2 separate regions of the Homo sapiens genome follow, and region 1 is linked to region 2. The links come from fine-mapping of genetic effects on gene expression. A gene starts in region 2. The other region holds a variant in brackets. All regions are shown on one strand. Distances are from middle to middle.

What was found. PIP is the estimated chance that this variant, and not a neighbour inherited with it, causes the effect.
Region 1: its variant is fine-mapped to the expression of ZNF169 in prefrontal cortex (GTEx, PIP above 0.99).

What each region holds. Positions count from the first base shown.
Region 1 is chr9:94,289,503-94,305,181 of GRCh38, forward strand. It overlaps ZNF169 (zinc finger protein 169), which reads left to right. Exons shown (of 5, transcript NM_194320.4): 3 at 2,839-2,965; 4 at 3,472-3,567; 5 at 10,313-12,327. The coding sequence ends at 11,868. Among named protein-coding and RNA genes, the nearest start is that of NUTM2F, 31 kb to the right of the region's middle. The variant C/A (reference allele first, on the strand shown) is at 9,670.
Region 2 is chr9:94,251,018-94,266,696 of GRCh38, forward strand. ZNF169 (zinc finger protein 169) reads left to right here and starts at 8,281. Exons shown (of 5, transcript NM_194320.4): 1 at 8,281-8,328. It overlaps LINC02603 (long intergenic non-protein coding RNA 2603), which reads right to left and starts at 8,294. Exons shown (of 3, transcript NR_160773.1): 1 at 8,094-8,294. RefSeq lists enhancers at 7,800-8,445, 8,284-8,603, 8,446-9,092, 8,634-8,763, 9,093-9,738 and 1 more.

The DNA of each region.
Region 1 (15,679 bases), 38 kb after region 2:
ACAATGGCCGGGCATGGTGGCTCACGCCTGTAATCCCAGCACTTTGGGAGGCCGAGGCAGGTGGATCACCTGTGGTCAGGAGTTCAAGACCAGCCTGGCCAACATGACGAAACCCCGTCTCTACTAAAAATACAAAAATTAGCTGGGCTTGGTGGCAGGAGCCTGCAATCCTGGCTACTCAGGACGCTGAGGCAGGAGAATCACTTGCATTCGGGAGGCAGAGAATGCAGTGAGCTGAGATCGTGCCATTGCACTCCAGCCTGGGTGACAGAATGAGACTCTGTCTCAAAAAAAAAAGCTATACAGTGAAATACACTAAGAAACACTGTAGGCAAATCAAGACAGAATTATAAAAAAGTTTGAGTAACCCATGAGAAATTTGTAAAGAAAACAAAGAGGCAAAAAGCCCAGAGAACAAACAAATAAAACTTAAATGGCAGACATTCCAACCAATAAGAACAGAATGCATATTCTTTTCATGTGCCTTTAGAAACACAGATGAAGTTAGACATATCCTGGGCCATAAACCAACATAAAGCAAAAATTTCTTTAGTTAAAAATATTTTTTCTAATTTAAGTCATGTAATGTTGGTCATATCGATAGGCTAAAGAAGAAAAATCATGATTTTATCAGTTAATGCAATAAGACTTTAGCAGAATTCAACAACCATTTGTAAACAAAACAAACTCTCAGTACAATAGGAACAGAGGAGAATCTTCTAAAAATCTGCAGCTAACATTCTTTTTAAAATTTTGGTAATACATAACACAAAATTGACTATATATTTTTACAATTCAGTGGCATTAAGTACATTCACATTGTTATACAACCATCACCACTTTCCAGAATTTTTTCATTATCCCAAATAGAAATTGTGTATCCATTAAACAATAACTCCCCATCCCCACTCCCCCCAGCCCCTGGTAACCTCTGTTTTACTTTGTCTGTATGAATTTGCCTATTCTAGGTACCTTACATAAGTGGAATCATATATTTGTCCTTTTGTGACTGGCTTATGTCACTTGGCATATTTTCAAGGCTTGTCTCTTAAAAACGTCCATCAGAAAAGGTCCCTCCTTTTTAAGGCTGAAAAATACTCCATTGTATGTGTATACCACATTTTCTTTATTCATTCATTTTTATTCATTCACATTTTCTTTATTCATTCAGTTGATAAACATTCAAGTTGTTTCCAGTTGTTGTGAACAGTACTGCTATGAACATTGGTGTACAAGTATCTGTTTGAGTCCCTACTTTCAATTTTTGGGGGTATATTCCTAGGAGTGGAATTGTTGGATCAGATGCTAATTATATGTTTAATTTTTTGAGGAACTGCCAAACTGTTTTTCATAGAAACTGTATTGTTTTACATTCCCATCGGCAATGTGAAAGTTTCCAATTTCTCCATACCCCACAAAAATATGTTTTTCTTTTTTCTGGTAGTAGTTATCCTGTTTGTGGAACAGTATTTTTTATTTAATTTATTTTTAAGTAAAAAAATTTTTTAAACATCTACTCTGATTCTGGTCTATGGAACAGTATTCTTTTTTTTTTTTTTTTTTTTTTTTTGAGATGGAGTTTTGCTCTGTTGCCCAGGCTGGAGTGTAGTGGTGTAATCTCGGCTCACTGCAACCTCCGCCTCCCAGGTTCAAGCAATTCTCTGCCTCAGCCTCCCAAGTAGCTGGGACTACAGATGCTTGCCACCATGCCCAGCTAATTTTTGTATTTTTGGTAGAGATGGTGTTTTACCATCTTGGCCAGGCTGGTCTTGAACTCCTGACCTCATGATCCACCCGCCTTGTCCTCTCAAAGTGCTGGGATTACAGATGTGAGCCATTGCATCTGGCCAGAACAGTATTCTTAATGGTGAAAGATTAAATGCTTTCCTTCCATGATTGGGAACAAACCAACGTTATATCTGTTCTTACCACTCTCATTCAACATAGCGCTGGAAGTTCTAACCACAGCAATAAGGCAAGAAAAGGAAATAAGAGACATACAGATCATTAACAAAGAAATGAAACTGTTCCTATTTGCAGAGGACATGATTGTCTATGTAGAAAATCTCAAGGAACGAAGGGAAAAAAAGCTTTTAAAGCTAAGTAAAGTTTAGTCAGCTTGCCGTATAGAAGAAAAAACAGACAAACAATTGTATCATATGTCATAGCATGAACATATGGTCACTGAAGTTAAAATACAGTACCATTAAAATTACTTAAAAAAAAGAAGAAAGCTGAAGAAATTCTTAGGTGTAAATCTAACAAAATGTGTAGGGTCTGTTTGCAGAAAATCACAAAATGTTGATGAAAGAAATCATAGACGGTCTAAACAAATGGAGAGACATACTGTGTTTATGGATTTGAAGATCCAATATAGTAAAGATGTAAGTTCTCACCAAATTGATATACAGGTTTAATGGGAATCCTATCAAAATTTCAGCAAAGGCTTTTAGAGATATAGACAAGATTATTCTAAAATTTGCATAGAAAGGCACAGGCACAGGCTATTTTAGAATAGCTAAATCAACTTTCAACATGAAGAATAAAGTGAGAGGAATCGGTTTACCTGATTTCCAGTCCTGCTATGTAGCTGCGATAATCAAACTTGTGTGTTTGATCAGCACAACAGAGAGCCCAGAAATAGAACCAGCATCAGTGTATGGAGGGGATTAATAGTCTTGAATATATGGAACCAGGTTTCAGGTTAAAAGCAGGATCTGTAAATCTCACTTGGGTGCTCTAGGACTGCTTCTTTCTGCCTTGACTGTGGTTAGTGGCTTAAGTTGGTTAGTGGGCATGGCTGGCTGTTGAGTGAGCAGGGATGTGTTTGTGTTACAGGCATTGATGGCCTTCCGGGATGTGGCTGTGGCCTTCACCCAGAAGGAGTGGAAGCTATTGAGTTCTGCTCAGAGGACCCTGTACAGGGAGGTGATGCTGGAGAACTACAGCCATCTGGTCTCCCTGGGTAAGGCTGGCCTGTTTAAGGTTTCAGATTCTGCTTGTGGGTATTTTAAGCTCTTACATAGCAAGCTGCCATGCTTCTGACTCAGAAAAACAGTTTTTTCCCCTATTCCCCCAGAGAATGCCTGGCTTTCACAGTGCAGTTGTGTGTGTGTGTGTGTGTGTGTGTGTGTGTGTGCGCGTGCACATGCTGTGAGCGTGTGGTGTGTCTGACACTGCATTTTTCAGGCCTGTTTACCCTGGCTGGGCTCCTCCTCTAAGGTTATCCTCCTTCAAAAGGAGGAATATTTTTATTGACTCAAGCACAGGGTAGAATCAACATACTGCCTTTAGGTCTAGGATCCCCTCCCTGTATGCATCCTTTCTTAGCATTCAGACATAGTTTACTCCACCCCTGCACCTCCCTACCACCTTCTGGGTTTATTGCATTCCTGGGTTGGCTCTGAGTTCTGAGATAGCCTCTTAAGCCACTAACTCAAGATCACCTTGGTTTTTTTTTCCTGTGAGTAGGAATTGCATTTTCCAAACCAAAACTCATCGAACAGCTGGAGCAAGGCGACGAACCTTGGAGAGAGGAGAACGAACATCTTCTGGACCTTTGTCCAGGTGAGTGGGAAGCCCTGGGCAAGCGAGGGTGCAGGGCAGTGAGGAGCTCAGCAGGTAAGGAAGGAGGGGCTATCTTTGAGGTGCTAGGAGGAAGTTCTTCTTCAGGCCTCCTAGGCCACTGGTAAAGGCTGCATGGCACTGCCTGCCTTCCACACTGTGTGCCTCCCCCCAGGACAGGGCACCCCTGGCATTCCATCTCCTTCCTCCATCAGGGAGCCTCACTCCTCACTTGGCTTCCTTTCTCGAGCACATTCAGGATTTCTCCATTCTTGGGCTCATGTGGTTGGCATGATCTTCAAAACAGTACCTGTCCTTTGAGACTAAGTCCCTGCCCCTGGTTTTTTATTTTTATTTTTATTTTTTTTGAGACAGAGTCTCGTTCTGTCACCCAGGCTGGAGTGCAATGGCATGATCTCGGCTCACTGCAACCTCTGCCTCCTGTGTTCAAGTGATTTCTCCTGCCTCACCCTCCTGAGTAGCTGGGACTACAGGTGCCCGCCATCATGCCCAGCTAAATTTTTTTGTATTTTTAGTAGAGATGGGGTTTCACCTTATTGGTCAGGCTGGTCTTGAATTCCTGAGCTCAGGCAATCCATCTGCCTTTGCTTCCCAAAGTGTTGGGATTACAGGCGTGAGCCACCACGCCCAGCCAGTTTCTATTCTTAACCTGGTAGCTTTTTTGTGCATCATTTCTATCCTGTAAATTCTCATAACTTTGTTTCTTTTATCATAGATTATTTAAGATTACAGCAAGGTGTGAAAAACTGTACAATGAGTAGGGTTGGGGCAGCCCTGTACCCTAAGAGATAGCATGTTATAAAACCAGGTAATAGCCCCATACTTTTCCTGATTGTGTCCCGTTCCTCCGCCTCTGTTTTCTGAGTTAGCATTCCATGACTGTCTTTATCCTTTTATTCCATCTGATGGGTTCTTCACTCATATAGGGTGTTGTTTTGCATGTCTGTAAACTTCTCTGCACATAATGTTATTAAGTTGTTTCCAACTTTTTGGCTATGAAATAATCTTGCTCTGTATTCTTGTATGCCTCCTTGGGAACATGTCCAAGAGTTTCTCTTAAAATATATACCGGCCAGGTGCAGTGGCTCACACCTGTAATCCCAGCACTCTGGGAGGCCGAGGCAGGTGGATCACGAGGTCAGGAATTCGAGACCATTCTGGCCAACATGGTGAAACCCCGTCTCTACTAAAAATAGAAAAATTAGCTGGGTGTGGTGGCGCATGCCTATAATCTTAGCTACTTGGGAGGCTGAGGCAGGAGAATTGCTTGAATCCGGGAGGCGGACGTTGCAGTGAACTGAGATTGCGCCACTGCACTCCAGCCTAGGTGACAGAGCGAGTCTCCATCTCACAAAGAAAAAAAAAAAGATATATACTTAGGTGTGTAGTAGCTGGTTCACAGGCATGCATAGCCTCAACTTATATAAGTTATGCCAACTTGTGTTCTGAAGTGGGCATGGCAGCTTATGCTCCCAGCAGGAGTCTATGAGAATTCTTGTTGTACATCCTCACCAACATTTGGGATTGTGAGACCTCATGTTTTATCCATCTATTCAGCTGGAAGTGAAATCTCAGAGGGGTTTTTAAGTTGCTTACTAGTGAGCATGAGCATCTTTTCATATGTTGCTTGGCCCTTCCTGTTTCCCCATCTGTGATTTGACCATTCAAGGTGTTTGCCTACTTTTCAATGGGTCTATTCTTTTTGTTATTGATTTGTAGAAATCCCATATAAATTATGGAAACATTTAGGTCTTTAACTGGAATTAATTTTATATGAATGCTGGGAGATAGAAATAAATTTTTGCCTGCTTTATCTTCTTACTTGTTTATTTTCATGGTTTCCTGGCATTTTATTTTTGTTTTATTTTTTGCTTTTAAATGTAACTATATAGCTGGTATTACACTATGTAGCAACTGAGTGCTTTTGTCTTTTTAAAAGCATTTCGTTATATAAAAATGGGGTGGGCACAGTGGCTCACGCCTGTAATCCCAGACTTTGAGAGGCTGAGGTGGGTGGATCACTTGAGGCCAGGAGTTTGAGACCAGCCTGGCCAACATGGCAAAATCCCGTCTCTACTAAAAATACACAAATTAGCCGAGCCTGGTGGTGCATGCCTGAAATACCAGCTACTCGGATGGCTGAGGAGTGAGAATCGCTTGAACCTGGGAGGCGAAGGTTGCAATGAACTGAGATCACACCACTGTACTCCAGCCTGGGCTACAGAGTGAGACTCTGTCTCAAAAAAAAATAAAGTAAAATAATGATAAAAATGTTATTAAGATACAGCAATTAAGGTATATTATAAGATATGTTTTTTAAGGTATAATAAACTACACTTATATAGGTGTGAAATTTGGTTAGTTTTGGCATATGTATACATGCATGAAAGCACTGCCACAGCTAAAGTAACAAGCATGTCTGTCATCCTTGAAAATTTTCTTTCGCCTTACTGTAATCCTACCTCCCACTCCTTCCTGTCCTCCCCTGTACCTGGGCAACCACTGATCAGCTTTCTATAATTATAGATTTGTCTGCATTTTCTAGAATTTGTATAACTGGATTATACAGGATACAACTGGATTCTTCACTCAGCATAAGTATTTTGAATTTTATCTATAATGTGTGTATCAATAGTTTATTAATTTTTATTGCTGAGTATTCCTTTATATGTCTAGGTCACATTTTAATACTGACCTATTAAAAGGTATTTGGGTTTTCATTTTTGACAAATATAAATAAAGCTGTTTTAAGCATGCAAGTTTTTGTGTGAATATAATGCTTTCATTTCTGTTGAATAAATACCTGGGACTGGAATGGCTGGGTTGTATGATGATGGATACAATATATATTCAACTTTTGAAGAAACTCACAAACTGCTTTCCAAAGTGGCCGCACCATTTCACATTCCCACAGCAGTGTATGAGAGCTCCAGGTGTTCCATATTTGTCAAAACTTGGCTTGGTTATTAATTTCAGACATTCTTATAGCTGTGTAGTGAGTGGCATCTTACCGTGGTTTTAACATTTTCTTAATGACTGATGATGTTGAGTATCTTCATGTGCTTATTTGCTATCTTATATCTTCTTTAGTGAAGTACGTTTTCACATCTTTTGCCCATTTAAAAATGTGGTTTCTTATTTTTGTATTATTGAGTTTGAGAGTTCTTCACATATTCTATGTAGAAGTCCATTATCAGATATATGATTTACAAACATTTTTTCTGTGGTTTACTTTCTATAATCTTAATAGTGCCTTTCAAAGAGAAATTTTAATTTGGATGAAGTCCAGTTTTCAATCTTTTCTCTTATGAATTGCAGTTTTGGTAGTGTATTTAAGAAATTTTAGTCTAAAGTAAGGTCAAAAAGATTCTCATTTTTTTCTTTTAGTAATTTTACAATTTTTAATTACATTTAGGTCTATAAGCCTATTTTGAGTAAATATACTTGATAAAAGATCTGAATTTATGTACTTTTTTAGGGGAGGAAGGGCATACAAATATCCAATTTTTCCAGCACCATTTATTGAAAACACTACCCTTTTTTAACTGAATTTCCTATGTATCTTTGTGGAAGATCAGTTGACCATATGTGATAGGTCTATACCTGGACTCTATGTTTTTTCTACTCCTCTGTTAGTGTCTCTATGCCAATACCACAGTTTTGATTACTGTAGCTTTATTAGGTCTTGAACTCACTGTAAATCCTCCATCTTCTTTGGGAAGCTTAGGCAGGCGGATCACAAGGTCAGGAGTTCGAGACTAGTCTGGCCAACATAGTGAAACCCCATCTCTACTAAAAATACAAAAAAAACTAGCCGAGTGTGGTGGTGCGCACCTGTAATCACAGCTACTCGGGAGGCTGAGGCAGGAGGATCGCGTGAACTCGGGAGGCGGAGGTTGCAGTGAGCCGAGATCACACTATTGCACTCCAGCCCAGGCAACAGTGCGAGACTCCATCTCAAAATAAAATAAAATAAAATAAAAAATCCTCCATCTTTGCTTTTTTTTGCAAGTTCTTTTCGTTATTCTTTGTTTTTTCATATGAATTTTAGAATCAGCTTGTCAGTTTTTAACAAAAATGCCTGCTGAGATTTTGATTGGGATCGAGTTGAATCTGTATCAATTTGTGGAGAACTTACACATAAATAATACTGTGTCTTACAGTACGTGAACACAGTATAGCTCTCCATTTACATAAGACTTCTTTCATTTTTGTCGGCATTGTTTTGTCATTTCTGGTATACAGGCCTTACATATCTCTTGTCAGATTTGCCCCTAAGTATTTCATATTTTGATGCTATTTTTAAGTGTCAATTTTCAGTTGTTTATTGATGGTATGTAGAAATAAAATGGATTTATGTATAGTGATTTTGTATGCTGTAATCTTGCAAAACTCACATCTTTTTCCACTGGAATATTTTAATATGAAGGACCTTCTCTGTATTCCAGATGGAATGTGAATGGCAATCCCTAAAGCTGCTGAAGTTCCCTCTTGCAGATATGATCTTACTGACTCTAATCAATGATACAAAGAGTTTTTCTTAGGAATAGTATGGTCAAAAATAAGAAATACGTATTTTGTGATTAAAAATAGTTAACAAATAGAATAACATATAAATCAGTATTGTATTTATAATCGTCTGCCTTGAACCAAGGGTCTTCTGTTAAGTAGTTTAATTCCATTAAATTGTTCACTTCTGTTCTGATAGGGCACTTGAAACCCTGATTCAGTTTCTTGCTATGGGTTGCTACTTGCCAGGTACATTTCTGATCAATGCTCTTAAAAATTTGTTCCAGGGGCTGGGCGCGGTGGCTCACGCCTGTAATCCCAGCACTTTGGGAGGCCAAGGCAGGCGAATCACTTGAGGTCAGGAGTTTGAGACCAGCCTGGCCAACATGGTGAGACCCTGTCACTACTAAAAATACAAAAAATTAGCCAGGCGTAGTAGGTGCGCCTGTAATCCCAGCTACTCAGGAGGCTGAGGTGGGAGAATTGCTTGAACCCAGGAGGTGGAGGTTGCAGTGGGCTGAGATAGTGCCACTGTACTCCAGCCTAGGCGACAGTGCGAGACTCCTTTAAAAAAAAAAAAAAAAATTTGTTCAAGGAGACTCAATTTCTAATCTGAGTTAAAAAGCAGGAGTCTTTAAACAAAAGTAAGATAAAAAAGATAAACTAGCCATGAATAAGAAAATGCCTTATTTTTCTCTTACCAAATGCTTTGCTTATTCACTACAGCAAACAATTTCAGAGATAATGAAAGCAGACTTCTCTATTGAGGGCTGTCCCATAATGACTCATAAGAACTTAGTCCTGCCGAGCGCAGTGGCTCATGCCTATAACCCCAGCACTTTGGGAGGCCGAGGCAGGCGGATCACCTAAGGTCAGGAGTTCGAGACCAGCCTGGCCAACATGGTGAAACCCCGTCTCTCACCTAAGGTCAGGAGTTCAAGACCAGCCTGGCCAACATGGTGAAACCCGATCTCTACTAAAAATACAAAACTTAGCCGGGCATGGTGGTGCACGCCTGTAATCCCAGCTGCTCAGGAGGCTGAGACAGGAGAATTGCTTGAACCAGAGGTTGCAGTCAGCCAAGATCACGCCACTGCACTCCAGCCTGGGCAACAGAGCGAGACTCTGTCTCAAAAAAAAAAAAAAAAAAAAGAACTTAGTCAATAATTACCTAGGAGTTACGGTATCAACTTACGGAAGCTGAAAGCACTGCCAATTTCCAGAGCCTTTAATTTATACCATCATGGGAATTAGTGTTATCTCCAATTGGCAGCCTATTTAAACCTAGAAACAAAATTTTTTGAAAAAGTCAATTTGTATAGTTTTAACAGTTTTTGTGCATGGATAAGAATATGCTTAAGCCGAAATATGTATAATCCCTGAAACATCTTTATGCTAATGAGAAGTCATCTATTATTAACTTTCAAACGCTGAGCTTCTCCTTAATTCACCAGATTTTTTTAAAAATCCTGGATTATTGAGCAAAACAGTGTACGTAGTGTTGTGCAATGCTATTCGGGGAATATACTTGGCTGCAGTCTTCCCAGAGGCTAGAGGACAGCACCTTCATTTGCC[C/A]GGAGGGCAGCATCAGGGATTCCTCTTCTTCAAGAGGACTTAAGGGTGTCCATACAGTTCAGGAGACAACTCACATCAGGCTGATATGGAAGCTCCCTGGCCTAAAGCCTATTCCACACAGGAGCCAGTATCTCTTGCTACAGCTTATCTGATTCGTGGGTGCCCCTTACTTGAGTCACCACAGTCAAGGAAGCCCAAAGCATGGCTCCCCTTCAGATGCTAAGATCTTATTTATAGCACCTTCAAGATCATAATCAGTCTGTTTCTTAACTGCAGCTCAGACACCAAGTTCTTGGCTCTTGCATAAACAGCAGGCCGAACAAATGTTTCTCAGGCAAGGTTTAATAGGCTTGAGCTGGAGCAAAAGCAAGGGAGCGGCGCCCAAGAAAGGAAGATAAATGTGTAACTCTACTTGCAGCAATTTATAGAGCTGAAGCTGCCTGTGATGCTTTTTTGAACCTTTTAGTTTGGCTGATAGGACTAGTTTGTAGTGTGGGTTTTCTGTGCTGCAATAGAGCATGTAATGTGCCCTTGTGGGTTGGAAGATAAGTCTTTGTTGTGAACATCTGAAGAAAACTGCTGGGCAGGTATTACAATCCATGGTCACCTGTGGTGATTCTGACCAAGACTTTCTCTCTAGCAGAGCCTAGAACAGAATTCCAGCCAAGTTTTCCCCACCTGGTGGCCTTTTCTAGCTCGCAGCTCCTCAGACAATATGCGCTAAGTGGCCATCCCACACAGATCTTCCCAAGCTCATCTGCAGGAGGTGACTTCCAACTAGAAGCTCCAAGATGCTCTAGTGAAAAAGGAGAAAGTGGAGAGACAGAAGGCCCCGACAGCTCATTAAGAAAGAGGCCAAGCAGAATTTCTAGGACATTCTTCAGCCCACATCAAGGTGACCCAGTAGAATGGGTAGAAGGGAACAGAGAAGGAGGAACAGACCTTCGCCTGGCCCAAAGGATGAGTCTTGGGGGGTCAGACACAATGTTGAAGGGAGCAGACACTTCAGAATCTGGAGCAGTCATACGTGGAAACTATAGACTGGGACTTAGCAAAAAGTCAAGCCTGTTCAGCCACCAGAAGCATCATGTGTGCCCTGAATGCGGGAGAGGCTTTTGCCAGAGATCAGACCTTATCAAGCACCAGAGGACACACACCGGGGAGAAGCCATACCTGTGTCCTGAGTGTGGGCGTCGGTTTAGCCAGAAGGCCTCCCTCTCCATACACCAGAGGAAGCACTCGGGGGAGAAGCCGTATGTGTGCAGGGAATGTGGGCGACACTTCAGGTATACATCCTCTCTCACTAATCACAAGAGGATTCACTCCGGGGAGAGGCCCTTTGTATGTCAGGAGTGTGGGCGAGGCTTTCGCCAGAAGATAGCCCTCCTTCTACACCAGAGGACGCACTTGGAGGAGAAGCCCTTCGTGTGTCCTGAGTGTGGGAGAGGCTTTTGCCAGAAGGCATCACTCCTCCAGCACCAGAGCTCACACACAGGGGAGAGGCCCTTCCTGTGCCTTGAGTGTGGGCGTAGCTTCAGGCAGCAGTCACTCCTCCTTAGTCACCAGGTCACACACTCAGGAGAGAAGCCTTATGTCTGTGCTGAGTGTGGGCACAGCTTTCGCCAAAAGGTCACTCTCATCAGGCACCAGAGGACACACACAGGGGAGAAGCCTTACCTGTGCCCCCAGTGTGGGCGGGGTTTTAGCCAGAAGGTCACCCTCATTGGACACCAGAGGACACACACAGGGGAGAAGCCCTACCTGTGCCCTGATTGTGGGCGTGGCTTTGGTCAGAAGGTCACCCTCATCAGACACCAGAGGACACACACAGGGGAGAAGCCTTATCTGTGCCCCAAGTGTGGGCGTGCATTTGGCTTTAAGTCGCTCCTCACCCGACACCAGAGGACACACTCAGAGGAGGAGCTTTACGTAGACAGGGTGTGTGGACAAGGACTTGGCCAGAAGTCACACCTTATCTCTGACCAAAGGACACACTCAGGAGAGAAGCCCTGCATTTGCGATGAATGTGGGCGCGGCTTTGGCTTTAAGTCTGCCCTCATCCGACATCAGCGGACCCATTCTGGGGAGAAGCCGTATGTCTGCAGGGAGTGTGGGCGTGGCTTTAGCCAGAAGTCTCACTTGCATAGACACAGGAGGACCAAGTCTGGTCATCAGCTCCTACCCCAAGAGGTCTTCTGACCTTTCCTTTCCCCGTGAGTGTGAAGCTGGCAGAAATCACTAGTAAATGCTTCAGTTTCCTGAAATGGAATGGAAAAAAAAAAATGTTGCTTTCTTTCATCGATCATGAGATAGTTGATTTTTGGTTTACTTTCTATATTCACAATTTGTCTTGGCTTGCTAGGGGTTCCATAACAAAGTACCCCAGGCTGGGTGATTTTGACAACGGAAATATATTTTCATATTTATGGAGGCTGGAAGTCCCAGATGAACGTATTGGTAGGTTTGGCTGCTGCTTAAGCCTCTCTGTTTGGCTTGCGGATGGCTGCTTTCTGGCCACGTCCTCACGTGGGCTTTTTTCTGTGTGTATGCTTTCCTGGTGTGGCTTCCTCCTCTTCTAGGGACACCAGTCATTTTGGATAGAGCCACAGCCACATGGCCTCGTTTAACCTTAATAACCTTCCTAAAGGCCTTATCTCTAGATACAGTCACACTACACAGTTAGGACTTCAACATATGAATTTCTGGGAAACCCAATTTAGTCTATAACACTCCACTACCAAAGTTCAGGTCCCTCAGACATTCAAAATACATTCACATGATCCCAACAGTCCCAAAATTCTTTACCCATTTCAACTTCACCTCTAGATCCAAAATCTCATTTAAATATCATCTAAATCAAGTGTGAATGAGACTTTAGGTACAATTCATCCTTAGGCAAAATTCTCCAGGTGTGATCCTGTGAAACCAGACAGATATCTGCTTCCACAATATTCTACAATGGTGGGACAAGCAGAGGCTGGACTTCCCCATTCCAAAGGAAAGACATGAGAAAGAAATGAAGAATGATGGATCCCAAGCAAGTCTCAAACCTGGCAAGGCAACTTCCATTAGATTTTAAGTCTCGAGAATAATCCCCTTTGGCTCAGTGCTCTGCCTTCTGGGCCAACTGGATTGGCAGCCCTGCTTTTTAGGCTCACGGGAGCTGCAGTGTCGCTCCCTTGGCCCTTGGCAGCGGCTCCTGGCCCACTGAAATTGAGGAGGAGACACACTTGCCCTCTAGACCTGTACTCTCTGGGCCCATTAGAACCTTTGAGAATCACATTCTTCCCTTTTCTTGAAGATTAACGTGCGTTTGCAACTGGATAGCTCTATTGTACCTTCCCGTAGAATCCCAGAAGTCTAACAGCCTGCCTTCATTTTTGTCCTGTCTCTTTCTCTATTCAGTTCAAGCTGGCAGCATTTCTGGTGAGATGGTTAATTGGTTCCATTCAGACCTATACTAATCTCTTTATCACATGGTTGTCCAGCCACACCCTAGTGTTCTTTCAAGAACATACTTTCTCATTTTTTGCAATGCGGACAGGCTGAGAATTTTCCAAATCTTTAAGTACTGGTTCTTTTTTGCTTAACAGTTCCTTCAATTTATCTTTCTCCTCTAATATTTTACTATAAGCAGCAAGGAGAAAACAGACTCCACTTGCATCACTTTGTGTAGAAATATCACCTGAATATTCTGCACTGCCTCACTCACAATTTCTGTACTCCACAAAACACTAGAACGCAATTTGGGCAAGTCCTTTGCAAGGATTCCAGTTTCCCATTACCCATTCCTCATTTCTGTCTGAGACTTAACCACAATCACCTTAAAATTAAAAACAAAACAAAACAAAACAAAAAAAAACCCCAAACATTTTGTAGATACGGGTTTTTGCTATGTTGCTTAGGCTGGTCTCATACACCTGGCCTCAAATGATCCTCCTGCTTTGCCCTCTCAAAGTGTGAGCCACCACACCCAGCCCAGAACCTTTTAACATCTACATTCCTACCAACAGTGTTTTAAAGGTCATCCAGGCTTTTCCTAACATGTGCCTCAGAACTCTTGTAGCTTCTTTCTACCGAGTACCCAGTTCCAAGTCACTTCCACATTTTAGGTTACAAAGCATCCCAATCACAGTACCAAAATCTGTATTAATTTGCTAGGGCTGACATAAGAAAACACCAGACTGGGTGCCTTAAGCAATAGAATATTTATCTTCTCACAGTTCAGGAAACTGGAAGTCCTAGAATGAGGTGTTGGCAGGTTTGGTTTCTACTAAGGCCTCTCTCCTTGGCCTGCAGATGGCTGCCTTCCCTCTGTGGTGTCTCATAGCTTATTCTTTGTACACACACTTTCCTGGTGTCTCTCATTAAAAGGACACCAGTGATACTGGATTAGGGCAACACCCTAAAGACCTTGTTTTAACCTTAATTACAACTTTAAATGTCCTGTATGCAAAAACAGTCACACTGGGGATTAGGGATTCAACATATGAATTTGGGTGGGGAGGGACACAATTTAGTCCATAACACTCTGCCTTCTGGACTTCCAAAATTCGTATCTAGCCGTGAGCGCCTGCCATAAGAGTGCTCTCTTGAATTCCTTTCCTTTCTCCATAAGTGTGAAGATGGCAGAAATCAATAACAGATGTTCCACTTTCCTGATATGGAATGGAGGAAAAAGAGTTGCTTTCCTTCATTGATCATGAGATAGTTGGTTTATGCTTTACTTTCTGCACAGTGGTCCTTTGTATTTTATGGTCTTTTGTTTTAATAAACTGCTTCTCTACAAAGCTGCATACCTGGCTATGTACCTCATTCACTGATACTTTGAGGAGAACCCCAAGGCATTCAACCTCTTCGGAGACATGGAGGAATTACTCTGCGTATTTATTCTAGGCTACTGTCCTATGGGACAGGGATATTACGGTCTTCAACCTCACCTCTTCCTAAGTCTTCCATTGTCTGTGATGAGAGCCACTGGCCACATGCTCACCTTCCCTGATGCCAGATTGAAGGGCATTTATTCACATCCCTGTCATGTTAGCTATGCCTACGTGCCAGTGATCCAGCCCTTCAGCCACAACCTTCCTTAAAACTCCAATCAGGAGCTAAGGCTCTGAAGCCACCCACCCTTCTATCCAGCCCAAGACACTGCCCCCTTAGTTATAGTCCCTCCTGTTCCCTGATCCCCAGAGCCCAAATGCCCCAGATCCTGACAAATGCCTACACCAAGAATGGCCCTGGCCCTGTTCCTTCAGCACCGAATGTTTACTGCATGGTCAGTCTCCCCAGTGCTTGGAGCCACTGCTGGCTCAGAGGGGTTTTTCACCAGAATGAAAAGAGATTTTAGTTTGGAAGAATTTGCCTTGGGAGGATAGATGAAAGAAGAATGACAGATGGAGGTCACTGACCCCAGCATCTCAGCTGGAGACAGTCTTTGGGTTAGCTTTGGTGGGGATGCCCTGAGACCACTGGGGACAGCCCTTATCAACACATTTTCACTGAAGCCATTTTGCCTCAGCGAGTTATCCAGTGGCCAGAGCTGAAGTCACAAGGGAAGCGTGTGTGTGTGTGTGTGCACGTGAACGTGCACACGCATATGTGTGGTATGGGGTCATTTCATGCCAGCAGTTTAAAAATTTCTACTGAGAATATAAATAGAAGTAATAACCATTCCAGCATATATATTGACCTTGTACTTGAAAGTGTTTTTCCATAATGGAAGTTTCTATGGCCATTCACCCAAAATGGACCTGATAAATGATATATAAATAAAAAACAGGCTGGGTGCAGTGGCTCACACCTGTAATCCCAGCACTTTGGGAGGCCAAGGTGAGTGGATCCCTTGAGGTGGGGAGTTCGTGACCAGCCTGGCAAACATGGCAAAACCCCGTCTCTACTAAAAATACAAAAGTTAGCCGGGGCGTGGTAGCAGGCACCTGTAATCTCAGCTACTCGGGAGGCTGAGGCAGGAGAATCACCTGAATCCGGGAGGCGGAGGTTGCAGTGA
Region 2 (15,679 bases):
ATGTTCACCCCCGCTTTGTTCAGTCCTCCTAGGTCCGTGCAGGCTACAAGTGGCGCCCCGAACAGCGACAGAATCGGGTGCTCTATGGTTATTTTGAGACAAGGTCTTGCTCTGTCACCCAAGCTGGAGTACAGTGGTGTGATCACTGCTAACTGCAGCCTTGACCTCCTGGGCTCAAGCAATCCTCCCACCTCAGCCTCCCAAGTAGCTGGGACCATAGGCACATACCACTACATCTGGCTAAATTTAAACTTTTTTGAAGAGATGGGGTCCCACTATGTTGTCCAGCCTGGTCTTGAACTCCTGGCCTAGAGCAATTCTCCTGCCTCGGCCTCCCAAAGTGCTGGTATTATAGGCATGAGCCACCACCCCTGGCCTAAACCATTCTTGAGGGATCTGCCCCCGTGATCTACTCACCTCCCACTAGCCCCCACCTCCAACATTTGGAATCACATTTCAACTTGAGATCTAAGGGGACAAACATCCAAACCATATCAACGTATAACAAGAAAATAGATAGAATTCATAATGAAAACACTACCTACAAAGATAAGTTCAGTCCCAGATGCCTTCACTGGTAAATTCTACCACACACTTAAAGATGAATTCAGGCCTGGCATGGTGGCTCACGCCTGTAATCCCAGCACTTTGGGAGGCTGAGGCAGGTGGATCACGAGGTAAGGAGTTCAAGACCAGCCTGACCAAGATGGTGAAACCTCGTCTCTACTAAAAATACAAAAATTAGCCGGGCACGGTGGCAGGAGCCTGCAATCCCAGCTACTTGGGAGGCTGAGGCAGGAGAATCACTTGAACCCAGAAGGCAGAAGTTGCAGTGAGCCGAGATTGTGCCACTCTACTCCAGCCTGGGTGACAGTAAGAATCTGTCTCAAAAAAAAAAAAAAGATGAATCCATAGCAATTCTTCGCAAATTCTTCTAAGAAACAAAAGAGGAGAAAACTCTTTCCAACTCAGTCTTTGAAGCAAATATTGCTTCGATATTAAAATCAGAAAAAGCCATCACGAAAAAACTACAAGTCAATATATCTTATGAAATAGGTGCAAATCCCTCAATTAAAAACTAGCAAACTAAATCCAACAACATAAAAAAGGGCTAAATACCACATTCAAGTGGAATTTATCCCAGAAATTCAAGATTAATTTAACATCCAAAAATCAATATAATGCATCATATTGGTGGAACAAAGAACAAACCCCACAGGATTATCTTCATATTCAGAAAGAGCATTTGACAACATTTAAGTGGTTCTGTTCCACTTGAAGATTTATATCTTCAAGATGAAAATATTCAACGACAAACTAGGAGGAGAAGGTAACTTTATTGTGATGGTTAATTTTATTTGTCAACTTAAGTAGGCTAGGGGATACCCAGATAGCGGGTAAGACATTATTAATGGCTGTGTCTGTGAGGGTGTTTCTGAAAAAGATTAGCATTTGAATCAGTAGACTGAGTGAAAAAAATCACCCTCACCAATGTGGGCCGCATCCAATCCACTCAGGGCCCAAATAAAACATAAAAGTAGAAGAAGGGTGAATTCTTTTTTTTTTTTTTTTTTTTGAGATGGAGTCTCGCTCTGTCACCCAGGCTGGAGTGCAGTAGCGCAATCTTGGCTCACTGCAAGCTCTGCCTCCTGGGTTCAAGCGATTCTCCTGCCTCAGCCTCCCGAGTAGCTGGGAGTATAGGTGCCTGCCACCATCCCCAGCTAATTTTTGTATTTTAGTAGAGATGGGGTTTCACCATGTTGGCCAGGATGGTATCGATCTCTTGACCTCGTGATAGGAAAGGTGAATTCTTTCTCTCTGAGCTTGGATGTCTGTCTTCTCCTGCCCTCAGATATTGATGCCCCTGATTCTTGGGCCATCAGGTTCAGGCCAGTACTTATATTATCAGCCTTCAGACTCAGACTGAATTATACCACTGGCTTTCCTGGTTCTCCAGCTACAAGCTGTAGGTCCCATAGTAGGTCATGGGACCTTTGAGCTTTCATAACCATGTGAACCAATTCCTAAAATAAATTTTCTTTTATCTGTTTTATACATGTATATATAAAATTGGCTCTGTTTCTCTGGAGAACCCTAATACAGATTTTAGTGCTGAGAGTGGTTCTAGTGGAACAGAATTTTTAAGATGAGTTTTCTGAATTGGTTCTGGAATTGGCTGTCTAGTATGAATTGATTTAAAGATGTTAATAATTCTATTTCCAGTAGTAAAAAGAGAGCACTGATAATCCATGGTATAAACTAGATAATCCATGGCATGTTCATATAGATACACAAAATATCTGCTTTGGATACTCCCAATCAGCCACTTATAAGAAGCAAGGAGATAAGTGACTTTGTATATGATACTTTCAAACATTTTTGGAAAACTAAAGAATATAATGATGTAGTTGGCTAATGCTAATGTCACTGGACAAAGTGGTGAAAGAAAAAGACAAACTCAGGGATTTGAATTCCCAGGTCAAGTGCTGCATAAATGATCCAAGAGTTTCTAAGCATACCCTGAAGGAGAGCCTTATCTCCTATAGGCACAGGGCTGAAATTGCTGAAAAATCAAATGCAGAACCTCATTCTATGATTGGCTGAATTACAACACAAGTTGAACTCCAAGCCGCATAGGTGTCTACTGTTAAAGTGAGGACATTGGAAAAGAATGGGGTTCTGTAAACTTGGATGACTTTAATAAGGCTAGAGACATTGAGCCTCCAAACTCTGATGAATCTTTTTGCCAGTGGAAGAGGTCTCCCCAACCCCAGAGGAGCTGGCCTCCAAACCTGCAGTGATATTCATCTTTCCACCTCTGCCTGAAGGGATTAACTTTGCATTGCCTGAGGAAATGGTAATGGCCTACCCTGAGGCAGTTGTCTTGCAAGACACTGCTGGTTTTTCTCAAGACCCATACGCACCACCCCTTTTCATTTCTAAACCTATACCTAGACTGAAGTCCCAGCAGGTTCCTGAAGAAGAGGTACAAAGTGTGACCCATGAAAAGGTATACTATATTCCAAAAGAACTGCTTGATTTTCTAGTTTAAACAAGCAGAAACCAGGGAACATGTTTAGGAATCAATATTAAGGGTGTGGGGTAACGGGGGAAGGAACGTAAAGTTGGATCAGGTTGAATTCATTAATATGAGCCCACTAAGCAGAGATTCTACACTTAATGTTTCAGCTCAGGGACTTAGAAAGGGCTCTAACAGTTTGGTTGGTTGGCTGAAACGTGGATCCAAAGATTGACCACTGTGAGGGAACTGGAAATGTGCAACTTCCCTTTGTTTATTTGTTTTGTTTGCTTGTTTTTGAGACAGAGTCTTGCTCTGTCACCCAGACTAGAGTGCAGTGGTGCTCACTGCAAACTCCGCCTCCTAGGTTCAAGTGATTCTCCTGCCTCAGCCTCCCAAGTAGCTGGGATTACAGGCGTGTGCCACCACGCCTGGCTAATTTTTGTATTTTTAGTAGAGACTGGGTTTCACCATGTTGGCCAGGCTGGTCTCGAACTCCTGATCTCAGGTGATTTCCCCACCTCAGCCTTCCAAAGTGCTGGGATTACAGGTGTGAGCCACCGCGCCCACCCATCATCTGCTCATTATTATTCTTTTCCCTGCCCTCTTTTGAATTGAGTATTTTTAATGATTTCATTTGTCCTTTGTTGGTTCATTGGGTATATGTTGGTTGTGTTATTTCAGTTATATCTTTGAGTTTATATTACACATCTTTAATTTACCACAATTTACCTTTGGTGGTATTATACTATTTACACAAAGTAGAACCTTACAACAATGTGCTTCCATTTCAGCCCTGGCCTTTCTGTTATCATAGTTACGCATTTCACTTCTATATATATCATAAACATCACAATACCTTCTTATTACTTTAAACAGTTTATTATGTATTAAAGCTATTTAAATAGAAACACAGCTTTTACATATTCTTTCTAGCATTTTTCATTTCTCTGTGTAGATCCTTATTTCCATCTAGTATCCTTTTCCTTTTGATTGAAGGACATCCTGTTTTTTCACTGGGTAAAAAATTCTAAGTTGATACATTGGCTTTTTTTTTCAGTGCTTTAAAGATGTTGCTCCTTTTACCTTGCTTTTTTTTTTTTTTTTTTTTTGAGATAGAGTCTCACTCTGTCACCCAGGCTGGAGTGCAATGGTGCGATCTTGGCTCACAGCAACCTCCGCCTCCTGGGTTCAAACGATTCTCCTGCCTCAGCCTCCTGAGTATCTGGGATTACAGGTGCGCACCACCACTCCCGGCTAATTTTTGTATTTTTGGTAGAGACAGTGTTTCACCATGTTGGTCAGGCTGGTCTTGTACTCCTGACCTTATGATCCACCTGCCTTGGCCTCCCAAAGTGCTGGGATTACAGGCGTGAGCCACCGTGCCCGGCCGCATTTTTTATTGAATGAAATCTGCTGTTATCTTTGTTCATTTGTACATAATATGTCTCCTCTTTCTGGCTTTTTAAAACAAGTTTCTTTATAGCTGCTTTTAAGCAGTTGTACCTTGGTGTTGTTATTTTCATGTTTCCTCTGCATAGGCTTCACTGAGATGCTTTAATCTGTTGGCTTATAATTTTCATCACATAATTTTCATTTGAGTATTTTTTATCCCTGTTTTACTTTGAATAGTTTCCCCTTCCATGTCTTCAGGCTAACTTCTTTTTCCCCTGAAATGTCCAGTCTGCTGCAATACCAACTGTGTCAGTCAAAGTCTTCCAGAGAAATAGAACTAATAGGATATATATATATAGAGAGAGAGAGAGAGAGAGAGTGAGTAGGATATATGTATATATAGGATATATAAAGAAAAAAGTAATAGGATAGGAAAAAACTAATAGGATATATGTATCTGTATATATATATATATATATGTGTGTATATATACATATATATATTCTATCTATTGATCTGTTTATCAAGTGTTTATCAAGTGGGAGAGAGTGACTGATTTATTTAAGGGATTGGCTCATGCAATTGCAGGGGCTGGCAAGTCTGAAATCTGTAGGGCAGGCAGGCTGAAAATTCAGGTAAGAGTTGATATTGCAATCTTGAGTCTAAAATTCACGGGGCAGGACAGCAGGCTAAAACATCAGGGAGGATTTCTGTTAGAGTCTTAAGGCAGAATTCCTTCTCTGGAAACCTCAGATTTTGCCGTTAAGGCCTTCAACTGATTAGATGAAACCCTCCCACATTATGGAGTGTAATCTCCCTTAAAGTCAACTGACTGAAAATGTTAATTACACATGTAAGATATCTACATGGTAGTATCTAGACTACTACCAAATAATTGGTCATTATAGTGTAGCCAAGTTGACATGTAAAATTAATCATCATACCATCCAGTATGGCATGATGTATAGAAAAACCCTTCTTGAAGTGTTTCCTGTAGCTTCTTGAAGTTGTAGTTATAATAAATGTTTTAGTGCTCTTATCTTGGTTTTTTTTTTTTAGACAGGGTCTCGAAGTGTTTCCTGTAGCTTCTTGAAGTTGTAGTTACAATAAATGTTTTAGTGCTCTTATCTTGGTTTTTTTTTTTTAGACAGGGTCTTGCTAGGGTCTTGCCCAGGATGGTCTGGAACCCCTAGGTTTAAGCAATTGTCCCAATCGTTTTAAGCAGCCTCCTAAGTAGCTGCAACTACAGACGCATGCCACTGTGCCCAGCTTGTGTCCTTACCTTTTAATTATATCTTCTGTGTAATTTCTATTGGTTGACTTTTCTCTTCATTTTGGGGAATATATTCTTTGCATGCTAGCATTTTTTTAATTGGAATTCTAAAATCCAGGGTCTTAGGATGGAAGCAGGTGTAAGAATAGAAAAAAAAAAAAAAAGTCCCCAATTTTGCCTTATTGGATGCTGGATAGTTTTGTATTCTTTTAAATATTCTTGAGCTTTTTATCTGGGATGCAGTTAAGTTACTTGGGAACAATTCAGTCCTTTCTAGGCTTGGATTTAAGCTCTGTTAGGTGAGACCAGAGAAGCATTTAGGTTAATTTTTGCCCCACTATTGAGGCAAAACCCTTCCGAGTACATGACTTGATGCCATGTGAATTAGCATTTCCACTCTGTCTCGTGGGAACAGACATTATTCCTGTTCTTTTTGAGCTCACAGTATTGCCCTCTAACCCTTTCTAGTGTTTTTTACCCCTAATTTTGAGGAGTTTCCTCACATGTACATGCTGGTCAGCACTTAACTAATACCTGAGGAAGAGGACTCTCTGCACATCTCTGGCGCTCTCTCTCCCTTTCTGTACTCTGCCCTGTGAACTCTAGATGCATATGCCTCCTCAGATTCCCAGTTCCATCTCCTCAAGTTGAACTCCATGCTTCACTTGAGTTTCCCTTCTCTGTGCTATGACTTGGAAATTCTCTCCATCTGCGGGAAGTTCAAAGGCTCACCTCCATGATTTCCACTGCTCTTCATTGTCTGATGTCAAATGTCTTCAAATGTTTCATATATTTTGTCCTTTTAAATGTTGATTAAGGTGAAGGGCTAAATCTGGTTCCTGTTACTTCATTTTGAGAAGAAGCAAATAGGAAGTAACTTAAAAATACCACTTTTTATCAAATTCTTAGAAAAAGAGTATAACTCATTTTGCAAAGACTTTGGTATGTTTTTGAGCGTATTATTCTGTTACATCTAATAAACAATCTTTGCATTAGTAAGATAACTTTAATTGCTATAGTGTTAAATGTCCTCAAGTTTAGTTTTTCCTTATCTTCTTGTAATCAATTGGAATTAAAAAAAAAACTTCAGAATCTTCTTCTTTATAACAGGAAAAAAAACCCCAGTATTTTTGGCATTTTTAGAAGTACATTCATACACACTGTCATTTAAAACATGGGGGTGGGAGGTGGAGCAAGATGGTGGAATGGAAGGCTCCACTGATCATTCCCCCTTGTAAGAAAAACAAGTTAACAACTATTTACACACAAAAGCACCTTCACAAGAACCAAAAATCAGGTAAGCACTCGCAGTACCTGGTTTTTACTTCATATGACTGAAAGAGGCACTGAAAAGGTAGGAAAGACAGTCTTGAATCACCAATGCCCCTGACCCATCCCCCAGCAGTGGCTCTGTGGTGCGGAGAGAGAATCTATGTTCTTGGGAGACGGCAAGCACAGCAATGATGAGACATTGCATTGAACTCAGTGCTGCCCTGTTATACCAGAAAGCAAAACTGGATCAAACACAGCTGATTCTCACGCATGGAGGGAGTATTTACACCAGCCTTAGCCCGAGGAGAATCACCTATCCCAGCAGTTGGAATTTGAGTTACTGCCAATCTCACCACCTCTGGCTAGAGGGCCCTAAATAAACTCGAAAGGCAGCCTGGGCCACAAGGACGGCTCACGCCTGTAATCCCAGCACTTTGGGAGCCTGAAGTGGGAAAATTGCTTGAGGCCAGGAGTTCCAGACCAGCCTGGTCAACATAGCGAGACCCAGATTCTTTTTTTTTTTTTTCCCCCTTGAGAAGGAATCTCACTCTGTTGTCCAGGCTGGAGTACAGTGGTGCGATCTTGGCTCACTGCAACCTCCACCTCCCGAGTTCAAAGTGATTCTCCTGCCTCACCCTCCTGAGTAGCCGGGACTACAGGCGCCCATCACGACGCCCAGGTAATTTTTGTATTTTTAGTAGAGACGGGATTTTACCACATTGGCCAGGCTGCTCTCGAACTCCTGACCTCTGATCCGCCCGCCTCAGCCTCCCAAAGTGCTGGGATTACAGGCGTGAGCCACCGCGCCCGGCCGCGAGACCCAGATTCTAAAAAACAAAACAAAAAATTAGCCCGGTGTGGTGCTATGCACCTGTATTCCCAGCTACTCAGAAAGTTGAGGTGAGAGGATTGCTTGGCCAGGGGTTTGAGGCTGCAGTGAGCTATGATCACACCATTGTACTGCAGCCTGGCCGACAGAGCAAGACCCCTTCTCAAAAAATAAGTAAGTAGATAAAGTTCAGGGGTGTACAATCACAGGTGTGAATTTGCAGGATGGAGGACATGTAACATCTTTTTAAAAAAAAAAAAAATTAGAAGGACCGTATAAAAAGTTAAAGAAGACTTACTGCTCACCTGACCACCCTTCTCATAGACCCGAAAGTTAGATTTTACTTTCTGATTTTTCACAATTTCTCCTGGATGCTGCGGTCCCGCCCCTCGCAGCATTCTGGATGTTGTAGTCCCTCGCTCCAGGGCATCCACGGTAGGGTAGTTGCGCGCCCCGTGGCAGTCTGGGTAGTGTAGTTCCGTGCCCAGGGGCAGTCCGGCTCGCGTACTTCCGCGTTCCGGCATCGTCGCCTGGTGCGTGGTGAGTGTCCTTTCACAGTTCTGGTGAGCTAGCCCGGAGGTGGTCCCCGCTTTCGCGGGCCTTCCACTGGAAGGAAGGTCGGGAAAGCTGGCATGGGCAGTCCATGTCGTGGCCACATGTTCCTTGGTGTTTTGAGTTTCGGCTGTGGGGTCTGGGCGTGCGTGGTCCACCCCGGAGAGAGGTCTTGGCGGAGGTCCTCTGGTGGGGAGGGGGCGTTGGCGTTGTCGCGTGCTTCTGGCGGGACTTTGGGCCCAGTATGTTGACCTGGAGGGGCCAGTGCAGGCCTGGGACCGACTTCCCGAGCTACTTCGCAGGTGCGTCCCCGGTACTTCGGGGGCCGCTGAGTGGGCTCTGCCTGGGGTACCCAGACAGCATCCTGCCACTAGTATCCCGCCATCCCCTCCCCACCATCGCGCCTCGGAGGTCTCTGGGCCAGCAAATGTGCCTTTGGAGGACATGATATCCTCGGTTGGAGCAAACTTCCCCATTAGTGGGAGGCACGCGGCTTGGGCATCAGTCGGGTTGTTTATTTGTTTATTTATTAAATTTTATTTATTTATTTATTTATTTTTGAAACAGAGTCTCTCTCTGTCGCCCAGGCTGGAGTGCAGTGGCGCAATCTCGGTTCACTGCAATCTCCGCGCCCCACCCCAGCCGCCGGGTTCAAGCCATGCTCCCGCGTCAGCCTCCCGAGCAGCTGGGATTACAGGCACCCGCCACCACGCCCGGCTAATTTTTTGGTTTTTGTTTTGTTTTGTTTTTTTGAGACAGAGTTTCGCTCTTGTCGCCCAGGCTGGAGTGCAGTGGCGTGATTCCCCTGCCTCAGGCTCCCGAGTAGCTGGGACTACAGGCGCACGCCACCACGCCCGGCTAATATTTTGTGTTTTAGTAGAGACGGGGTTTCACCATGTTGGCAAGGCTGGTCTCGAACTCCTGACCTCAAGTAATCCCCCCGCCTCGGCCTCCCAAAGTACTGGGATTACAGGCGTGAGCCACCGTGCCCAACCTCAGTCCAGTTATTAGGGCTCTTGTGGATGGCTGGTGCACTGTGGTGGTGATGGTGCAGCTTGGCCACTAGGACCCGGGTTTGTGGGGGAGGATTGTTTGTGGGTAGACATCCAGACTTGGTCTTGATAGTGGGGGGGGGGACGGCTAGGGCCGTGCGACTCGGGTCAGTAGCCTTGGGGCCTGGGGACCCAAGTTGGTGAGTTGAGAAGGGCTTGCCTGGAGTTAGACATCCCTGGGTTGTGGGTTGCATGGGGGCGTGCTTGTATCCAGATTGTCGGCTTCTGCAGCTGTGTGGCTCCCTCGGACTTGGGGACCCTTCCGGGAGCATGGGTTGCAACAAGCAGAATGGTGCCCATAGGGCCAAGGAACATTTTTCTCAAGCCTCAGGGGGCTGTTGAGTGACTCCTTGAATTCCTGGAGGTGGGGGAAGAAGTTGGGTGGAAGGCATCCAAACCTACATTTTTTTTTTTTTTTTTTTTTTTTTTGAGATGAAGTCTCACTCTGTCGCCCAGGCTGGAGTGCAGTGGAGTGATCTCAGCTCACTGCAACCACGGCCTCCCGGGTTCAAGCAATTCTCTGCCTCAGGCTCCTGAGTAGCTGGTACCACAGGCGCCCGCCACCACGCCCGGCTAATTTTTTTTGTATTTTTAGTAGAGACGGGGTTTGTTTTTTGTTTGTTTGTTTGTTTGTTTGTTTTGAGAGGGAGTCTTGCTCTGTCGCCAGGCTGGAGTGCAGTGGGGTGGCGCGGCGCGATCTCGGCTCACTGCAAACTCCGCCTCCCGGGTTCAAGGTATTCTCCTGCCTCAGCCTCCCGAGTAGCTGGGACTACAGGCACGCGCTACCACACCTGGCTAATTTTTGTGTTTTTACCATGTTGGCTAGGATGGTCTCGATCTCCCGACCTCGTGATCCGCCCGCCTCGGCCTCCCAAAGTGCTGGGATTTCAGGCGTGAGCCACCGCACCCCGCTCGAGACGGGGTTTCACCATGTTGGTCAGGCTGGTCTTGAACTCCTGACCTCCTGATCCACCGGCCTCGGCCTCCCAAAGTGCTGGGATTACAAGCGTGAGCCACTGCGCCCGGCCAAGACCTACTCTTATTTCTAACTTCTCAGTATGAAAACATTGCAAAGATATCCAGAAGTAGTTTTGAAGTTCCATGGATTCATCACTCAGATTCACCACTTACAAATGACTCACCTGTCTTCTTTCCCCCAAATCTGCAACCCCAAGTGTGGATCTCTTTGGAAATTGTCTCTTTCACTAGGGGTCTATACCAGGATTTGGTGTCTTGAGTGACCCTTCATAGAGTGAGTTCAAATCCAGGTCTCTCCCTTTGTCACTGTCACTTTGAGCAAGGTACTTAACCTCGTGGAGCTGCTGTGAATGTAGAACGAAGTAAAACTTGTGTATGACACTTCTCTGATGTAGTTCTTTAAAACAAAATTCAAATGTCATATCATTTCATCTGTAAATGGCAAAAACCACAATTACTTTTGCACCAATCTAATACTTCAGTGTTCAGTATGCATCTCTCATAAATAAGGAATTTAAAGAAAAACAACTTCAGCATTAATGATCATACCCAAGAAAATTAACAGAATTTATTTAGTATCACTTATTCAGGCTGTGTTGTTTCCGTATTTGTCTCAAAAGTTGCCTCACTACAGATATTTGTCCACTACAAAGCTTTCCTGAGTTTTCTCTGGCAGAATTACTTCCATTGTCCTTTTTAGTTTCAGAGCACTTTATTATATGAGGACTCCACGGCTGGCATGGTATATCTCAACTGTCTGACTGTCCCACTGGTTTTGAGATAGTTCTTTGAGGGGACAGGCACCTTGTCTGGCTCCTCATGGGTCACTGACACAGTGCTTGGCACCCACCTGGACTGTGCAACTGACTGACTTTGAGGGTATCAGTTGTCTTTTTTGCCTGGAAAAGGAAGTTCATGGAGGATAGAAACTCAGATGGGAAAAGGGGGTTAGGCTATTACTGGGGAAAGCCTAGGGTGCCAAGATTGTGTGTGGATCTTATCTGAGGTCAGCGAGATCTACTGCCGGGTTCTGACAAGAGAAGGGTCATGATTTCTTTTTTTCTTTTCTTTTGTTTTTGTTTTTGTTTTGAGACAGAGTTTCACTCTGTCGCCCAGGCTGGAGTGCAGTGGTGCGATCTCGGCTCACTGCAACCTCTGCCTCCCAAGTTCAAGCGATTCTCCTGCCTCAACCTCCTGAGTAGCTGGGCTACAGGCGTGCGCCACCATGCCCAGCTAAATTTTTTTGTATTTTTAATAGAGACGGGGTTTTACCATGTTGGCCAGGATGGTCTTGATCTCCTAACCTCGTGATCCGCCTGCCTCGGCCTCCCAAAGTGCTGGGATTACAGGTGTGAGCCACCTCGCTTGGCTGAGAAGGGTCATGATTTCTGACTACACTCATTACCCTATCTCTCTGCTCCCTTTTACAGTGAAAGTCATCAAAAAAATTGCATGCACTTGATGAATGCAGTGCCTTTCTGTGCATCATCTATTTAATTTCCAAGTATTTGGAGGGTTTCTAGCTATTCTTACTGACTTCTTATTTAATTCCATTCAGGTCAAAGAACAAATGATGTAGAATGTCAGTCTTTGCAAATTTATTGGGAGTTATTTCACAACCCAGCATGTAGTGTGAGTTGGGGAATGTACCATGGGCCCTTTAAAAGCATGTGCATTCTGTTGAGCAGTGATGAGCTAATATCAGTTTGGTCAAGTTAGTTATTATGTTCAAATCTTGTATTTCCTTATGGATTTTTTTTTCTAGTTATTTTATCAACTGTTGTGGCAAGGTGTTAATTCGAACTAGGATTATGGAATTGCCAATTTCTCCATCGAGTTCTGTCAATTTTTGCTTCACGTATTTTGAAGCATTGTTATTATAAGGTGCATACATATTTATCTTTGTTATATCTTCCTGATGAATTGACTGTTTTATTTTCATGAAACATCCCTTTGTATCTCTGGTAACACTTTCTCTTGAAATGTAGTTTATCTGATAGTAATATAGCCATTTCAGTCTTGTTATGTTTACTCTTTGCATGTTATCTCTTTTCTCATTCATTTTCTTTCAACTGACCTATGTCTTTATATTTAAAGTCTTTATATTGTAGACAACATATGGTTAGGTCTTGCTTTTTTTTTTTTAATCTATTCTGATAATCTGTGCCTTTTTTATTTATTTTTAGAGACGATGTTTTGCTGTGTTGCCCAGGCTATTCTCCAACTCGTGGGCTTAAGCAATCCTCCTGTCTCAGCCTCCCAAAGTGCTGGGATTACAGGCATGAGCCACCGTGCCCAGCCAGTCTGTGCCTTTTAATTGGAATGCGTATTTCATGTAATTACTGATACAATTAGATTAGGTCTCTTTTACTGTTTGTTTTTTTATTTGCCTCCTGTTTTTTTTCTTCCCCTGTTCCTATTTCTGCCTTCTTTGGGCCAATTGAATTTTTTTTTTTTTTTAGCATTCTAATTTAACTTAATTCAATATAACTTAATTGCCACTTAGCTATAGTGCTTTGCATTTTTACTTTATATTTTTAGTGCCTGCTTTAGAGATGACAGTATATATTTGTAACTCTTCACAGTCTATGTAATGTCGAACAACTTCATGTAAAATGAGGGCTCTTGTAATTGTATAGGTACTTGTACCTACCTACTCCGTCATTCTTCAGGCTGTAATTGTCATATGTATTGAATCTTCATATGCTGTCAATCACAATGCAAATATAATGTATTTGCTATAAACAGTCTTTTATTTTATCTTTTTGAGGTGGCGTCTTGCTCTGTTGCCCAGTCTGGAGTGCAGTGGCACAATTTTGGCTCACTGCAACTTCTGCCTCGCGGGTTCAAGCGCTTCTCCTGTCTCAGCTTCCGAGTCACTGGGATTACAGGCATACGCTACCATGCCCAGCTAATTTTTGTATTTTTAGTAGAGATGGGGTTTCACCATGACCAGGTTTGTCTTGAACTCCTGACCTCAAGTGATCTGTCCACCTTGGCCCCCCAAAGTGCTGAGATTACAGACGTGAGCCACCGCGCCTGGCTTCAGTTGTATATGTTAAAGAAATTAGGAGAAAAAAGAAATAGTCTTTTTTGGGTGTGAACGTTATTTATCGTTTCTGGTGATCTTCAATCACCACAGAAAATCCAAGGTTCCATTTGGCATAATTTTTCTTCAGTTCACAAAAACTCTTACAGGGCAGGTCTGCTGACGATAAATTTTACTGGTTTTCTTTTACTTGAAAATGTCTTTGAAGGCTTTTTAAAAATCAGATTTATTACAAAATCACAACTCTTAAGTGTACAATTCGATGAGTTTTAAGTAATGTATATTGTTGTGTAACTGATTTGCTCCCTATCACTAAAGTTTTGCCTTTCCTAGAATTCCATGTAAATGAAATCATATAGTACGTATTCTGTTTCTGCCTTCTTGTTACTTGATCAGTAGTTTATTCCTATTCCTTTTTATTGTATTTTGTTGTATGATTCTACTACCTTTTGTTTATCCATTCTCCTTTTTCTGTTGTTTTTGATTGTTAGGTATAGTAATTAAGCTACTGTGACAATTCTTGTACAATTCTTTTTTTTCCAGGGTTCTTTTACTAGGCTGATGTATATCTCTTTCTGTACCCTGTTTTTTTTTTTTTTTTTTTTAATATCTCTTAGGTACTTTGGGAATTGCCAGATCATAGGTATGTTTAACATTAAAAAAAACCTGCCATACAGTCTTCAAAAATAGTTGTACCATTTTACAATCCTGTTCCCGGACCAAACTGAGGGTCAGGCTGCTATTTTTCGTGGCCCAATAACGAGATGCAGATGAACTGGGGAGGAAGAGAGTTTTTATTTCTGTAACCGGTTACAGGGAGAAGGCCTGGGAATCATCACAAAACTCAAAATTACAAAGTTTTGCCAGGCGCAGTGGCTCATGTCTGTAATCCCAGCACTTTGGGAGGCTGAGGCAGGCGGATCACTTGAGGTCAGGAGTTCGAGACCAGCCTGGCCAACATGGTGAAACCCTATCTCTACTAAAAATACAAAAATTAACCAGGCTTTGTGGCAGGCATCTGTAATCCTACTTACTTGGGAGGCTGAGGCAGGAGACTCACTTGAGCCCGGGAGGTAGAGGTTGCAGTGAGCCAAGATCGCCCCATTGCACTCCATCCTGGGGGACAGAGCGAGACTCTGTCTCAAAAAAAAAAAAAAATTACAAAGTTTTCCAGAGCTTATATAACAAGCTATATCTCTATGTGTAAGTGTGCTTTCATCTAAATACATAAGTGATTAACTTCTTTTAATCTATAACTAAGGTCTGAGTCCTGAAGACTTTCCTCTGGAGCCTCAGTAAATTTATTTAATCTAAGTGGGTCCAGGTGCTGGGGTGATTACCCTTATCTTATCTCCTGCTAAATCATGGAGGCTTGGGGAGTTCCCTCAGATCCTCAGTAAACTTGTTTGTGGAGACCTAGGGAGTTTCTTCAGACCCACAATAAAACTTGTTTAATCCTAAATGGGTCCTGTTAAGAATTCCTTAGTTATTTACAAAAAAATGGCTGGGCATGGTGGCACATGCCTGTAATCTCAGCTACTCAGGAGGGTGAGGCAGTAGAATTGCCTGAACCCGGGAGGCAGAGGTTGCAGTGAGACAAGATCACACCACTGCACTCCAGCCTGGGCAACAGAGAAAGACTTTGTCTCAAAAAAAAAAAAAAAAAAAATTCTTAGTTATTTTGTCATGCTTTAAGGCTCAGGAAAGGCCTAGGCAAAATTGTTGATGGGCTTTTGTTACATCCTAGCCTTTGTATAAGGGCACTGACTTTTAATATTTAACTTAACCACTCAGTCAGTACTGAAACAGTTCTTAGTGAGACCTGACCTGCCACAATCCCCACTGTCAATTTGCACATGATTTCTATCATGCTTGTATATTTATTTGTCACAAGAATTGTAGGGAGATGGGGCATTATAATCTTTCTGGCTACTTCCTGCTGAGATGGGGTCGTTGTTACGGAGCATCGAACGCAGCGCTGGAGTGAAAGAGTTCAATTTGTTCCCAGTAGCAGTCTCTGTTTTGGGGGCATAGAGGCAGCGCCTGCTGAAACATAGTAGTGTGCAACAGCAACACATATAAATAGGTTGCCACTGTTTTCTTCTGAAGTTTAAGTTGTCTAGTCTTCAGTTCACAGGGCTTCAAGAAGGCACAGCTTAGGTTTCAGTGGTTTCAAATTAGGAAAAATAGGGAAAAAGGAAAAGAAGGAGGAAAAAATTGAAAACATTATTTTGGAGACCTGTAGACAGAAAAATTAGAA